2 linked regions of the Homo sapiens genome follow. The protein of the gene in region 1 interacts with the protein of each later gene in a pairwise test. Each region holds a gene or a part of one and is shown in the gene's direction. Other genes may lie near its edges.

What was found.
Region 2: the proteins of TRAFD1 (region 1) and NGLY1 interact in binary tests that used the Homo sapiens proteins (3 or more experiments, as listed by UniProt).

The regions. Positions count from the first base shown.
Region 1 is NC_000012.12:112,120,806-112,129,047, forward strand, and holds the start of TRAFD1 (TRAF-type zinc finger domain-containing protein 1), read left to right. Parts: upstream 1-4,754; 5' UTR 4,755-4,813; exon of another isoform or gene 4,814-5,344; intron 5,345-8,242. UniProt on the Homo sapiens protein: Negative feedback regulator that controls excessive innate immune responses. Regulates both Toll-like receptor 4 (TLR4) and DDX58/RIG1-like helicases (RLH) pathways.
Region 2 is NC_000003.12:25,772,703-25,780,443, reverse strand, and holds part of NGLY1 (peptide-N(4)-(N-acetyl-beta-glucosaminyl)asparagine amidase), read left to right. Parts: intron 1-1,755; coding exon 1,756-1,870; intron 1,871-7,741. UniProt on the Homo sapiens protein: Specifically deglycosylates the denatured form of N-linked glycoproteins in the cytoplasm and assists their proteasome-mediated degradation. Cleaves the beta-aspartyl-glucosamine (GlcNAc) of the glycan and the amide side chain of Asn, converting Asn to Asp.

The DNA.
Region 1 (8,242 bases):
GCACTTTATGGCGTGTACTTCTACCCCAGTCAAATTGAAAACAAAACAAAACAAAATAATAGTAGTTTCCTACCAGAGGTGTCTGAGAAGATGGGCAGAGAGGGAGAAGATATTTGGGATCGGGTGCTTGTTGGGATGCCAGGGAGCAAGGGACTTACTGCCAGAGTCGCCTCTTGGTGCACCCAAAAAAGTACCAGGAAGATGAACAGGAAGGGGCCTCAAAAGACAGAGGGAGCTGGCGAAGGGCTGAGAGAAGTGCAAAGGATGGAATGCTACAGGGTAGAAAGGAACCCAGTTTCATGAAAACCCAGTTTGATGAAAACAGATTTGGTTTTGGCCAAAAACAAAAAAATAATCCACCTTTAAATGTTTACTGTAGGCTGGGCAAGATGGCTCACACCTGTAATCCCAGCACTTTGGGAGGCTGAGGTGGAACACCTGAGATCAGGAGTTCGAGACCAGCCTGACCAACATAGTGAAACCCCATCTGTACTAAAAATACAAAAATTAGCCGGGCATGGTGGTACATGCCTGTAATCCCAGCTACTTGGGAGGCTGAGGCGGGAAAATTGCTTGAACCCAGGAGGTGGAGGTTGCAGTGAGCCGAGATCATACCACTGCACTCCAGGTTGGGTGACAGAGCGAGATTCTGTTTCTTTTTTTCCTTCTTTTTTTTTTTGAGATGGAGTTTCACTCTTGTTGCCTAGGCTGGAGTACAATGGCTTGATCTCGGCTCACCGCAACCACCGCCTCCCGGGTTTAAGTGATTCTCCCTCCTCAGCATCCCAAGTAGCTGGGATTACAGGCATGCACCACCACACCCGGCTTATTTTGTATTTTTAGTAGAGCTGGGGTTTCTCCATGTTGGTCAGGCTGGTCTCGAACTCCCGACCTCAGGTGATCCACCAGCCTCAGCTTCCCAAAGTGCTGGGATTACAGGCATGAGCCACCACGCCCAGCCAAGATTCTGTTTCAAAAAAAAAAAAAAAAAAGAGTTTATTGTAAAGCAGCACCTTGAGGTAATTCTGCAAGTAGAAATTGAGTGCCTTCCATGTGTCCGGGCTAGGCATGGGGCCAGGAATCTGTGACTCTAAGCAGCTGCTTGCTGGGATGTAAAAGTGGGAGGAAGGGAACACGTTGGCAACTAGAACCACAAGGAAAAGCTGCATTCTGTCAGGGAAGATCCCTAGCCCTTGAGCGGGGCTGAGGCTGCGGGAGGTAGAAGACAGTTCAGAACAGGGATGGGGGCGTGTTGGGGAATGGAGGAGTCATGTTGGCTTCTCAGACTGGGTAGTGACAGCTTTGGCTAGAGGAGAGGAATTTCCCTCCCCCAGCCTGGCAGGGCTCTGAGTAGGGCTGAGCTGGGAAGGGTAGGGCAACACCTCTCCCTTTGGGCTTTATCAAAATTCCACTGCAGTGAATGCTAAATCTGCCAGAGCCCAGAAGTGCCATTTAGGCCATGACACCAGAAATCCAGATTCAGTTAATTTAGTGAGTTTTTAGGGATGAGGTTGAGGTACTAGGGAATTGGGATAGTGAGGAGGTTGACCTTGAGCAGACATTCAAATTTCTAACAAGCCGGCTGGGCGCAGCGGCTCACGCCTGTAATCCTAACACTTTGGGAGGCCAAGGTGGGAGGATCATTTGAGGTCAGGAGTTCAAGACCAGCCTTACCAACATGGCGAAACCCTGTCTCTACTAAAAATACAAAAAAATAGCCAGGCATGGTGGTGGGCACCTACAGTCCCAGCTACTCGGGAGCCTGAGGCAGGAGAATCGCTTGAACCCGGCAGGCGGAGGTTGCAGTGAGCCGAGATCGCGCCACTGCACTCCAGCCTGGGCGAGAGAGTGAGACTTTGTCTCAGAAAAATAAAAAATAAGTAAATAAATAAATAAAAATAAGTTTCTAACAAACCCTTTAAAGATTCTGGTACAAGGAGGTTGGGGGGAACTCCATCTAATCCTCTCATACAGGTGACTCCTGGTAAACCAAGAAGCAGCTCTTCCTCTAACCTAATCTAAATCCTTTCTGCTGCCACTGTAATCACCCCGCCTTGCCTGCCTTTTTTGGTCAGGAATAAAATATCCCTAAACTTTTTTTATTTCTGCTGTTGGATTTAGGCCAGTGAAAATAAGGCACCCCAGGGGTTAAGTGAAATTTGAGCTTATCATTATTTCAGTTCATTCCTTGCTACCCTGGACCTTGTTGTCTCCTCCCACTGTGAACTATGAATTTAGAGGAGCTTCTGGGTCACTCAGGCAACGGAAGACAGGACTGCCATTCTCCTGTTTATTTATTCAAAATGTGTTTATACCAAGTGGATGACTATACGGAGCAACTGAAACTCTCCTACACTACTGTTGGGAACGTTTAGTTGTGCAATCACTTCGGAAAACAGTTTGGTAGTTTCTTGTAAAGTTAAAACATAGACTTACCGTATGATCCAGCAATCCCACTTCCAAGTGTTTATCTGAGAGAAATAAAAACATATATCCCCAAAGACTTGCACAAGAATGGTTACTACTGCTTAAACTAGAATCAATTTTTTTTTTTGAGATGGAGTCTTGCTCTGTCACCCAGGCTGGAGTGCAGTGGTGCCATATCAGCTCGCTGAAACCTCTGCCTCCCAGGCTCAAGCAATCTTCTCACCTTAGCCTCCCAAGTAGCTGGGACTACACGCATGAGCCACCACGCCTGGCTACATTTTTGTATTTTTTGTAGAGACAGGGTTTTGTTATGTTGCCCAGGCTGGTCTGGAACTCCTGAGCTCAGGCGATCCACCCACCTTGACCTGCCGAAGTGCTGGGATTGTGGGCGTGAGCCACCATGCCTGGCCAAAAACTAGAACCAGCTCTAATGTTTGTCAGTATAAATTGTGGCATATCCATGTGCTATGCTACTTGGCACTGAAAAGGAATAGACTTGATATTATCAACAGCATGGATAAACCTCAAAAACATTATGCTGAGTTAAAACACCTTATTCATAAAAGAACACACTATATGGTTATCTTTTTTCTTTATATATACTTAATACATTAATATACTTAATTCATATTAATACACATTTTTTCTGATTGCTTTTTAACTGTTAATGATTGTGCTTTCTTTTGAACTCCAGTAAGTTTTGTTATTAAAATGTAACATACAATGTAAAGTGCTTAAGATATAGGTGTGTAGCTTAATAACTATTTACTAATTAATCCATCTGTGTTAATCACTTTGCTGATCAAGATATAAACATTTCTAGAAAATCTTTCTCATATCTCCTTACAGGCTATATACCCTCTGAATGGAACCAGTTACTTACTTCTCTCACTTTAGGTTAATTTTCCCTGGTTTTAAACTTTATATGTTTGGAATCACACAAGTTATATTGCATATTTAAGCTAAATATTTTATCTTGTTATAAATATTGCTTTGAGACGGAGTTTTGATTTTGTTGCCCAGGCTGGAGTGCAGTGGCTCAATCTCGGCTCACTGCAACCTTCACCTCCTGGGTTCAAGCGATTCTCCTGTCTCAGCCTCCCAAGTAGCTGGGATCATAGGCGCCTGCCACCACGGCCAGCTAATTTTTGTATTTTTAGTAGAAACGGTGTTTCACCATGTTGGCCAGGCTGGTCTTGAACTCCTGACCTCAGGTGATCCACCAGCCTCTGCCTCCCAAAGTGTTGGCATTACAGGCGTGAGCCACCGCGCCCAGCCTGTTAGATGCTTTTCTTGCTTAGTACTATCTCATTAACATTTTGCAATTATATTATATTATATTATATTATATTATATTATATTATATTATATTATTTTTGAGACGGGGTCTTTCTCTGTCCCCCAGGCTGGAGTGCGGTAGCATGATCAGGGCTCACTCCAGCCCTGCCTCCTGGGCTCGAGGGATCCTTCCACCTCAGCCTCCCAAGGAGGTGGAACTACAGGTGCGTGCCACCACGCCTGGCTAATTTTTGTATTTTTTTTGTAGAGATATGGTTTCATTATATTGCCCAGGCTGGTCTCTAATTCCTGAGCTCAAGAGATCCACCCGCCTTGGCCTCCATATTTTGCAATTATAATCTGCAATGGAATCATAATTTTAAATTGCTGTATTGTTTGTAATATGTGCTTGGTTATACTTATATAATTATAAGTTGGTTTGTAATATGTGCTTGGTTATACTTATATAATTATTCTCTCCTTTATTATACATGAGGTAAGAGAAGCTCAGGGAATCCATTCAGGCAGCAAGTGGAGAAACTAGCTCTCAAACCTGCATCTCAGGCTCTCATTCTTCCACTGCAAAAAAGCAAAGTGCTCAAAAAATATGGTCACAGATCTGCAGAAGTCTTGCACAAGGGCATTATCATAGCAATAAGAATGACTAATAAGTATTAACGGCCCATGAGAAAAGAACAAATACCATTAATTATCTCAATATATTAAGCATATTAGTAATGTTTGTACAGAATTATTCATGCAAATATTATTAGCCTGTGTCGGGGACAGTTGCTAAACTCAGCAACAGGCTCACAGCTCAGCTTCGTGCCTCTGGTTCCAGATGTGCAGGGGCCAGGGCTTCCAGGGACACGCCCCCGTGGGCCTCCAGGGAGCCAATCGACGCGCAGAAGGCGGGGCCCTGGGAGCGACAACGGTGTTATCCAATGGGCCGACAGCTGGAGCCGCCCCTGGCCAATGGGCGCGCTCCTCCGCGATGGGCGGAAGTGGTGAGGCAGCTCTGAGGGCCGTTGTTCAGTGCGGGGTCTGACAGAGGAGGCTCCGTGTCTGCAGCTAGTGTGTCAACTCAGCGTTTCTCCTCTCGTCCCTGGTGAGGTGTAGCGGCGGCACGCGGCTGGAGATCCCCTGTGGCCTCCAGTTTAGGAAGGGTCCAGCATCCCAAGGGAGGGGTGTGTGGGCGAGGGGTCTCTGGGCCCGGGGTCGCGGCTGTGAGGAGAGGATGCCCGCGCGGCGGCATCTCAGGCACCTGGAGGAGGCCGCGCTTTCTCCTCAGGGAACCGGCGCCTTGGCAGCCCCCGGCGACGCCGCCCCCTTCGCGGCCTAGGTTGGTCTGGTGAGCCGGGAAGCGGGCGTCGTTCGCAGCGCCGCTGTGACCACCGCGTCCCGGGCGGAGCTGGGCTCAGTGCCGGCCTGGGCCTAGAGTCCGAGCCTCGAGCTGCCGGCGTGGGGGGTCGCGAGTGGCCTAATGCGGCCTCGAAGCCGAAGGACCCGAGTCCGAGCTCGCACTCCGACCCGCTGGTGCTGTGGAAAACTCAGGTGGCCTTCCGCTTTCGTAGCCTCTAAAGTGGGGACCAAGACTTTCACCTCTTAGGATTGTAGTCGGGATTAAAAGATTTTCCCGGTAAGCGTTTGGCAACTGCTATTATTTGAGAAGCCGCTTACTTCTTCACTCCCCATCACCGACCTTCCTGGGGACGGGGGCGATTGGAAACTGCCTTGGGGTATCTGGACCCGGCAGGGGAAGCTCCGCCGCCTCGGGCAGAGGGACGGTCCCCTCTGCGGACTAGAGAGATCTAGCTGACCCCCAACAGGCTCCTTATAAGCTTGAAGACTTTTCTGTGCCTCAACTCTTCCGTGCATTCGCCCGTTTCCTTGACCCTTTGAAGTATTGTCAGTCCTCTGCCTGAAGAATCTGAGGCCCAGAGAGGTTAAATCTGGCAGAACCAGCCAGACCTTGACCCCCAGAGGGGGACCCTGCAGGCTACCCCCAGTCTCCTTGCATCTAGAAAAGCAAGCACCTGCTACATCTGAGCTCTGGCCTTAGAGTTGGCCAGAGTGGGCTGGAATAGAGCACACCTGAAATCAGTCGGACAGCCTTCCTTAGTTGCCATTTCATATCAGAGTGAATATCTTTTTTTTTTTTTGAGATGGAGTCACCTTCTGTTGTTCAGGTTGGAGTGCAGTGGCGAGATCTCAGCTCACTGCAGCCTCCGCCTCCTGGGTTTAAGTGATTCTCTTGCCTCAGCCTCCTGAGTAGCTGGGATACAAGCGCCCGTCACCACGCCCAACTAATTTTTGTATTTTTAGTAGAGACTTGGTTTTGCCATGTTGGCCAGGCTGGTCTCGAACCCCAGACCTCCAGTGATCTGCCCACCTCGCCCTCCCAAAGTGCTGGGATTACAGGCGTGAGCTGCTGCGCCCAGCCCAGAATGGGTGTCTTGAATTATGTCATTCCCTAGTTTAAAGCCCTTCAGTGGTTTACCATTGAGCTTGGAATCGAATCCAATATTCTTTCTGTCTGATATGACAAGACCTTCTTGAGTCATTCCCCTTTTTTATTATGCTCTTCCAGATCTGCCTTTACTTTCTCTTTCATTGCTTTTAGGCCTTTTGCCCTTCCCACTGCCTGGATGGATTTCCCCGCATTCCCATCCTCTATCTTTGTCTTTTCGTGGTTGGCTCTTGTACTTCAGTTCTTAATTTAAATGTCGTCTCCCCAGAAAGTTCTTCCCTGACCACTCTTATCTACCTAAAGTAGATTTGCCTCTATTCCGCCCCCATTTATTTGTCAGTATACTTTTCCATCACAATACTCAAGTTATATGTATTTTTTTGCTTATTGTTTTTCTCTACCACTAAATCGCTTTATCAGAGACTATATTTCCTTATTTTGTAAAGTATTTTTAGTGCCAGGGCACAGTGGCACACAGTATGGTCTTCTTTTTCTTTGAGACAGGGTCTCACTCTGTCACCCCGGCTGGAGTGCAGTGGTGTGATCACAACTCACTCACTGTAGCCTCGACCTCCTGGGCTCAAGCCTCCCAAGTAGCTGGGACTACCTCAGCCTCCCACCCCAGCCTCCCAAGTAGCTGAGATTACAGGCATGTGCCACCATACCCACCTAATTTTTTGCTTTTTTGTTTTTTGTTTTTTTTGAGAGGGAGTCTCGCTCTGTCGCCCAGGCTGGAGTGCAGTGGCGTGATCTCGGCTCACTGCAAGCTCTTTTTAGTAGAGACTGGGTTTCACCATGTTAGGCAGGATGGTCTCGATCTCCTGACCTTGTGATCCACCTGTCTCGGCCTCCCAAAGTGCTGGGATTACAGGCATGAACCACCGCACCCGGCTGCTTATTTTTTATAAAGGCAGGGTCTTACTATGTTTCCTGGCTGGCCTTGAACTCCTGAGCTCAAGTGATCCACCCACCCCAGCCTTCCAGAGTGCTGGGATTACAGGTGTGAGACACTGCACCTGGCCCACAGTATTGTCCTTTTTTTTTTTATTTTTATTTTTTGAGACAGAGGCTCACTCTGTTGCCCAGGCTGGGGTGCAGTGGTGTGATCCTGGCTTACTGCAACCTCCACCTCCCGGGTTCAAGCAATTCTGCTTCAGCCTCCCTAGTAGCTGGGACTACAGGCACCCGGCTAATTTTTTTATTTTTAGTAGAGAGGTGTTTCGCCATGCTGGCCAGGCTGGTCTTGAACTCCTGACCTCAAGTGATCCGCCCACCTCAGCCTCCCAAAGTGCTGGGATTACAGGCATGAGCCACTGGACCCAGCCTCAAAGTATTGTCTTAATTAAGCATGTTGAACAAATGACTAAATACATGTTTTGAAAAGTGGCAACTCGCTTGATAATGCCAAAACCTTTAAAGAACCCTACTGGGGGCAGGATTTAAGACCATTTTTGTATCATGGAAAGGAATAATCTAAACTAAACAATGGTAGTAAAGTTGCCAGTGCTTTGCTTTCTGCATTGACATCTTGTTTAAAAAGCAGGAGAAACTTTATAGTGAAGAAATTTGGCAGACACCATATCAACTATGTGATCATGGTTTACATCAATAGTAAAATAAGACTGTTGACATCATGTACCTTCTGATATAAGGCACTGAGATGAGCACAACATGATTTCTATGGTGTTCTTGCCAAAAATATATAACCTGAATTTAATCATGAGAAAATATCAGACAAACCCAAATTGAAGGATATTATATAAAATAACTAGCTGGCTGGGCACGGTGACTCATGCCTGTAATCCCAGCACTTTGGGAGGCTGAGGCTGGCTGGTGGATCATATGAGGTCAGGAGTTTGAGACCAGCCTGGTCAACATGGTGAAACTCCATCTCTACTGAAAATACAAAAATTAGCTGGGCATGGTGGTGCACACCTGTGGTCCCAGCTACTCAGGAGGCTGAGGTCGAGGTTGCAGTGAGCCGAGATCGCAGTGAGCCGAGATCGCACCACTGCACTCCAGCCTAGACAGCAGAGTGAGACTCTGTTTAAAAAAAAAAAAAAAAAA
Region 2 (7,741 bases), on another chromosome or scaffold:
TACTGACATGTTTATCACCCTGTGAAATACATTGAGTGTCAGGAAAAGATGCCCCATTTATCGAAAACTAGCTTTGATAAATGTAGGATTATTTTATAGTTCAGTTTTCTTAAGTGATAAGAAAGAGAGGCTCACTTGTGAGACAGTGTAGCATGGAAGCCAGGAATGCGAATGTTCTGCAGTGCACAAGGAAACTCCACTGAGAAAAGGCCCCACATGTTAATGGTGCTGAGACTGAGAAACCCTAATCTAATACACAGAATAAAGAGTTGAGAATAAAATTTTCTTTGTATTTCACAACCATCTGTGATTCTCAAATTACATATAGTAAAGAACAATGTTTTTGTTTTAATTTCCAATCCCTTATGGACCTATAACTTTTGTAAAATACACTGAAAATTTCATGGCAATATCAAATTGCTGTATACCGAACATTCAATTTCTCTACTTCTTGCTTCATTTTTATGCACTTGTAAACAAACAAAGAAAAAATTTCTGTACTACTTGTGTATGGGTAACAAATAATTTGTAGATTAGCACCAATCTGTGGACATTTTGAATAGCAAAAAAAATAGAGCATTTGTCTCTGAATATTCTGTAATAAACATGATTTTTGAAATTAGGGAAAAGTTTAAAAACATTCATTTAGTATTTATGACACTTTGGCCAATAGGCAATTGACTGGTGAAAAACAAATGCAAAATTTGTTAAAACTTATAAAATTAAAATATTTGGTTTTTGGTTTTGTTTTTACGTCAGAATACCTAGAGAACATGTGTAGATAGGACAAAGTTGATAAGTCATTTGCTAGCATTTGCCTACTCACCATATCATACCCCAGGGCAGGTGGCTTCTTATGGAAGTACATCTTCCTATGGATCCCAGATACTGCCTCAGAATCCTCCTTAACATAGTACTTAAAGAAGTCACTATCACTTTAAGGCAGTTGGTGTCAGGTATGAAACTTATCATCCTAAACTATGTTCTGAGGGTCTTTTGAATATAATACTATGATTAGCTTAACCTTACATTCTTTTAATTTTTTTTAAACAATTCTGATTTATCAAAGTAATTAAAAATCTCAAACCAAAACTTTTCATGTGCTGGTTACTTGTCCCAAGTGTACTATTCAAAATCTTAATTATGGTAAAAGAAATTTATGTCTTCCTTTTATTGCCATACTGTCTGTGTCAAGAATATGTCTTGGGCCAGGTGCGGTGGCTCACGCCTGTAATCCCCAGCACTTTGGGAGGCTGAGGCGGGTGGATCACCTGAGGTCGAGAGTTCGAGACCAGCCTGGTCGACATGGTGAAACCCTGTCTCTACTTAAAAAATGCAAAATTAGCCAGGAGTGGTGGTGCACCCCTGTAATCCTAGCTACTTGGGAGGCTGAGGTGGGAGAATTGCTTGAACCTGGGAGGTGGAGGCTGTAGTGAGCCGAGGTCACGCCACTGCACTCCAGCTTGGGAAACAGAGCAAGACCCCTCTCTCAAAAAAAAAAAAAAAAAAAAAAAAAAAGAATGTATCTTAAACTGAAGCGAGACCCCCCCCATCTCAAAAAAAAAAAATGTACCTTAACAGCACAGAATGTAATTTACTGTTTTTACTTATAGTAAAAACAACCATTGGTTTAGGGAAGAAAGAAAATCAGGTGACTATAAAGGTATACCTAGGTCATGTTTGTTGAAAGTAAAGTCTTTGAAGAACTATGACCTGGTTTTTTTTATATATAATCAAACTTTTGTTTTTTGTCAGAAACCCTAATGATGAAAAATATAGATCCATCCGGATTGGAAACACAGCCTTTTCTACTAGACTCTTGCCTGTCAGAGGAGCTGTTGAATGTTTATTTGAAATGGGCTTTGAAGAGGTAAGTATGTTCAAGGATTTCCTCTCCCCTCTTCATGCACAAAGCAGCCATTATCATGTTGGTGAATAATTGTTTGAATAAGATAATGTTTTTTAATTTATCATTTTGGGAATCAGTAGAAGTAGTTATTTCTTCATTGATTGGACATTTAAAAATCACAACAAGTATAGTTTAAAATTTCAGTAAAATGTAACAACGCTCCACAGAGAAATTCTTACGAGTCTCAGTTCTTTAAAATAAGGGTCATACATGCAACCCAAGGACCAAATGTGGTTCACTTTAGGCTTTTAGCTAAAACCTGATTTGTGAGCACACATGAATACTAATAGAGTCTAGCTACCTGTCTGTAGTAGGAAATGAAAAGAGTCTGAAGTAAACAGAAAAACTGAGTTGAGCTGCCACACAGAAGGGGTTTCTTCTGTGACAGGAGAGGAGTCTCAGTATTTTTTTTTGTTTTTACTTCAAATGAATATTTTGGTGTTATCTTTTGGAATCTTGTGGTGTAGTTTAATTTTATGACACATCGAAAGTAGTTATTAAGATTCTGAATTTTCTTTATGTTTATATCCTTAACTAGTTCTCCTTTGTAGAGCATTGAAAGAACTTGAACAAGTTACAGAGACTCAATAGTCAGTGGTCGTCAGAATAGGCAATTGTAGAAGTTGTTAAAGAGATATGCTGAGCTGCTATGTAAGATTCACTTTTCTTCATGCCTCTCTGCTTCCCTCCCCAGGTTCCATTTCAGGCCCTGAAGTAACAGTAGTGAACAAAGTAGTAGATATAATCCCACCTCACATAGAGCTTACATTCTAGTAGGTTAAACAGCCAGTAGATGTGAAAACAAGATGAGTGCAAAGAAGAAAATAAGACCAGGTAATAGAATAAAAAGTACTTTGCATGGCAGGCAGTGGTCAGGGAAGTCCTCTCTGAGGAGATGACATTTGAGCTGTGACTTGAAACATCTCAGGTACCTGAAACTCTCAGGTAAGAGTGTTTCAGGCAGAAGGATTAATGTGTGTAAAGGATTTCCAGCAGAAGTAACCGTGAAACAGAAATAAGCTGCATAGGGAGGCAGAGACCAGGACACATGGGGTCTTGAGGAATGTGGCAAAAGACTTAGACTTTATTTTAAGTGAGATGAGAAGCCACTGGGAATTTTTTTTTTTTTTTTTTTTTTTGAGATGGAGTTTCGCTCTTGTTGCCCAGGCTGGAGTGCGGTGATGCAATCTCAGCTTACCACAACCTTCGCCTCCTGGATTCAAGCGATTCTCCTGCCTCAGCCTCCTGAGTAGCTGGGATTAAAGGCATACGACAGCACGCCTGGCTAATTTTGTATTTTTAGTAGAGATGGGATTTCTCCATGTTGGTCAGGTTGGTCTCGAACTCTTGACCTCAGGCGATCCGCCCGCCTTGGCCTCCCAAAGTATTGGGATTACAGGCGTGAGCCGCCGTGCCCAGCCTGGAAAGTTTTAAGTAGGGAAAAATATTTTTGAAGATTATTCTAGCTTGCTGTAAAGAGAATTCCTGGAGGTGGTGGGATGGGGACAAGGGATGAAGCAGGGAGACCGGTTAGAAAGCTTATTACATTAGTCTAAATAAGAAATGGTAGTGGTTTGTATAAAGTCCATGAAGGCAGGGTTTTTTGTCATTTCTGTTCCCTGTGTTGCTAGCTCCTGGAATAATGCTGGTGCATTACAGATGTTAGGTACTCAATAAAGATTTGTTGAATTAAGTACTGATGGTGGAGATGGAGAGAAGTAGATGGATCCAGGATTTCTTTTTGTGACAGAATCAACAGGACTTACTGGTGATTTAGATGTAAGATATAAGGGAAAGGAAGGAATCGGGGACTTACCTATGTTTTGGTTTAAGCAACTAATTGGATGGGAGTATCATTAATTGAGATAGAGAAGCCTTGGAGAGTAGCAGGTTTTAGGGGAGAAACTAACACCTGTCTTTGGACAATTGTGACCAATTTGCTGTTAAATATTCAAGTAGAGAAGCCAAGTAAGCAGTTGGCTATATGAGTTTACAACCCCAAAGGAGAGATTAGGCAGGGGATATAAATTATGGTGTCATCTGATTATAGATGATACAAAGGTATCCGAACATAAAGAATTTAAAATTCCTTGTTCAAGGAAATGCCAATTTTCAAGATTCAAATTGGTTGGGAAAATTGAGTAAATGACAACGGAAGACTCTACCCATTTCTCATGTCGAAGTGTCACATATTCGATAGAATTAGATTTGTCTTTCATTCAGCAAATATTTGAGTGCCAAGTAGGGTAGCCAGCCATTCCAGTTTGCTCAGTACTGTCCTGGTTTTAGCAATGAAAGTCCCACATCCCAGAAAACCCCTCGGTCTCAGGCAAACCAGTGTTGGTCACTGCAGTGCCAAATAACAGGCCACACTGAGACTTGCAGAAGTATTTGATGCAAATGGAGTCACAGTCTCAGAAAAGATTAACAGGTTTTGATATGACTAATTTATACTTAAAGTTTCTGTTCGGCTTTAGACATCACACCTCAGGACTTGAACTCTACCACCAAAAAGAAAGTTGGTGGACTTTTTAAAGAATAATTATATGAATACATAATAGTTGTACATTATGGGGTACAGGTGATATTTTGATGCTAGCATACAAATGTGTAATGAACATATCTGAGTAATTGGAACATCCATGATCTCAAACATTTATCATCTCTTTGTGTTAGAAACATTCAAAATTCTGTCTTCTAGCTATTTTGAAATATACAATGAATTGTTTTTAACCGTAGTCACCGTATTGTGCTATAGAACATGAGAAATTATTCCTCCTATTTAACTGTAATTTTGTGCCCATTAACCAATCTCTTTCTATTGCCCAGTCCCTTCTATCCCTCCAAGCCTTTGGTAACTGCCATTCCACTCTTCTTTATTTTTTTAAATTTTTATTTAATTTTGTAATATCTTTTTACAATCACTCTTTTCTTCTATGGGATCAATTGTTTTAGCTCCCACATATGAGTGAGAACATGTGTTATTTGTCTTTCTGAATTCTGGCTTATTTTACTTAACATAATGTCCCTCCATTTCCATCCATGATGATGCAAATGACAGGATTTTGTTCTTTTTTATGGTGGAATAATATTCCGTTGTGTATAGATACCACATATTCTTTATCCATTCATCTATTGATGGACAATTAGGTTAATTCCATATCTTGGCCATTGTGAATAGTGCTGCAGTAAACATAGGAATGCAGATACCTCTTCAATATGCTGATTTTGGAAAATGGTGGATAGGAGACAGGACTAACTTGCAGCTCCCAATTGGACTGACAGAACAGTGCCTGGAAACTCACATCGTGAACTTTTGCTCTGAGAAATACTAGAGGAACATACCAGGAAAACCAAAAGAATTCACAGACCCTTTGAAAAAAGCAGCTTGCTGCTGCAAATTCCATGAGACAGAGGAAAACCTGTGAGTGCCCGAAGTGTGACGGGGAAAGTCCACTGGGGAACCTGAAAATCCAGATCACGGGAGAAGGGTTTAACCTTACCTAGAGCTGAAATTAATTTAGAGAGCTGAGTGAAATATAAAAGTAGAACAAGCAGCGAGAAGAGCCTGCAGGCACTCCTGGCCACCAAGGAAGCCATTTCTGACTTTATCTCACAGGGGTCCTTGGGGAGGGCTGCCAGTGGAATTGGGGAAAGACCACAGGGAGAATGAAACTTGCAGCTGAACACGAATTTTCCTGGACTGGGGTGTGTAGGGGAGGTGGCAAATGGGAAATGCAGATACTGCAGATACAAGCACAGAAGCCAAGGCAGACGGAGAGGGGTGAAGCCTGAAAACCCTGATTGCTTTCTCAGTGGGGAGACTTGTAGCCTGGGGCAAAATCTCAACCCTGCGTACACTGCCTGGATATAAACATGGTGCTATTGGTGGAGCATGGTGGGAGTGAGACTGGCCCTTCTGGCTGTGTGGGAGCTGGGTATGGCCTGTTATTGCTGGCTTTCCCCCACTTCCCTGGTGACCTGTATGATGCAGCAGAGATAGCTGTAATCCCCCTGGAAACATAACTCCATTGGCCTGAGAACCACACCCCCATCCGCCACAGTGGCCACAACAAGCCCAACCCAAAGAGAGTCTGCTCTCAGACATGCCTAACCCTGCCTTCACCTGATGGTCTTTCTGAGAGAAAAGACATAATCTCTTGGGAACTCTATGGCCCTGCCCACTGCCTGAGAAACCCAAATACTTATGCAGGCAACCCTAGGGCAAGCTTACATCTTCTTGATACTACTGCAGCTGATGCTGTCTTGAAAGCATCACCTTCTGGCTGGGGGCCAACCAACTGAAACCATTACAGCAACTCATTAAAGAACAACTCTGCCCCAAGAAAAGAGAATACAACAGCTAATTCCACCACCTGTAACATCCTGGCTAACCAGAGGTCTTGAGTCCAATCGCATGACAGCTTTACTACCAGCACACCTGGAATTCGAGAAAACCAACACACTAAACAAAACTGCAACCAAGGTCCCACACAGAGTCCACTTCACTCCCCTGCCACCTCCATCAGAGTAGGTACTGGTATCTATGGCTGAGACTTGAAGACAGATCACATCACAGGACTCTTTGCAGACACTCTCTAATACCAGTTCAGAGCCCAGTAGCTCTACTGGTTTGCTAGACCCAGAAGAGCAATAACAATCACTGCAGTCCAGCTCTCAGGAAGCCCCATTCCTAGAGGAAGGGAAGAGCACCACATCAAGGGAGCACCCCATGGGGCCAAAGAATCTGAACAGCAGCCCTTGAGCCCCTGATCCTTCCTCTGACATAGTCTATACCTAAATGAGGAGGAACCAGAAAAACAATTCTGGTAATATGACAAAACAGGGTTCTTTAACATCCCCAAAAGATCACACTAGCATAGTAGCAATGGATCCAAACCAAGAAGAAATCTCTGAATTGCCAGAAAAAGAATTCAGAAGGTCAATTATTAGGTTACTTAAGGAGACACCAGAGAACTTAAAGAAATTTAAAGAGTGATACAGGATATGGATGAAAAAAAATCTCCAGAGAAATAAATAGTATAAATAAAAAACAATTACAACTTCTGGAAGTGAAGAACACACCTAGGGAAATGCAGAATGCATCGGAAAGTTTCAACAATGGAATTGAACAAGTAGAAGAGAACTTCAGAGCTCAAAGATGAGGCTTTCGTATTAACCCAATCCAACAAAGACAAAAAAGAATTTTAAAAATGATCAAAGCCCCAAGGAAGTTTGGGATTATGTTAAATGACCAAACCCAAGAATAATTAGTGTTCCAGAGGAAGAAAATACATCTAAAAGTTTGGAAGACATATTTGAGGGAATAATTGAGGAAAACTTCTCTGGCCTTCCTAGAGATCTACATATCCAAATATAAGAAGCTCAAAGAACACCTGGGAAATTCATCTCAAAAAGATCATCACCTAGGCACATAGTCCTCAGGTTATCTAAAGTCAAGACAAAGGAAATAATCTTACAAGCTCTTAGGCAAAAGCATCAGATAACCTAAAAAGGAACACCTATCAGATTAACAGCAGATTTCTCAGTAGAAGCCCTACAAGCTAGAAGGGATTGGGGTCCTATCTTTAGCCTCTTTAAACAAAATAATTATCAGCTAAGAATTTTGCATCCAGCAAAACTAAGCTTCATAAATGAAGGAAAGATAGTCTTTCAGACAAACAAATGCCAAGAGAATTTGCCACTACCAAGCTAGCACTACAAGAACTGCTAAAAAGGAGCTCTAAATATTGAAATAAAACCTCGAAATACACCAAATTATAACCTCCTTAAAGCATAAATCTCACAGAACCTATAAAACAATAAATAATG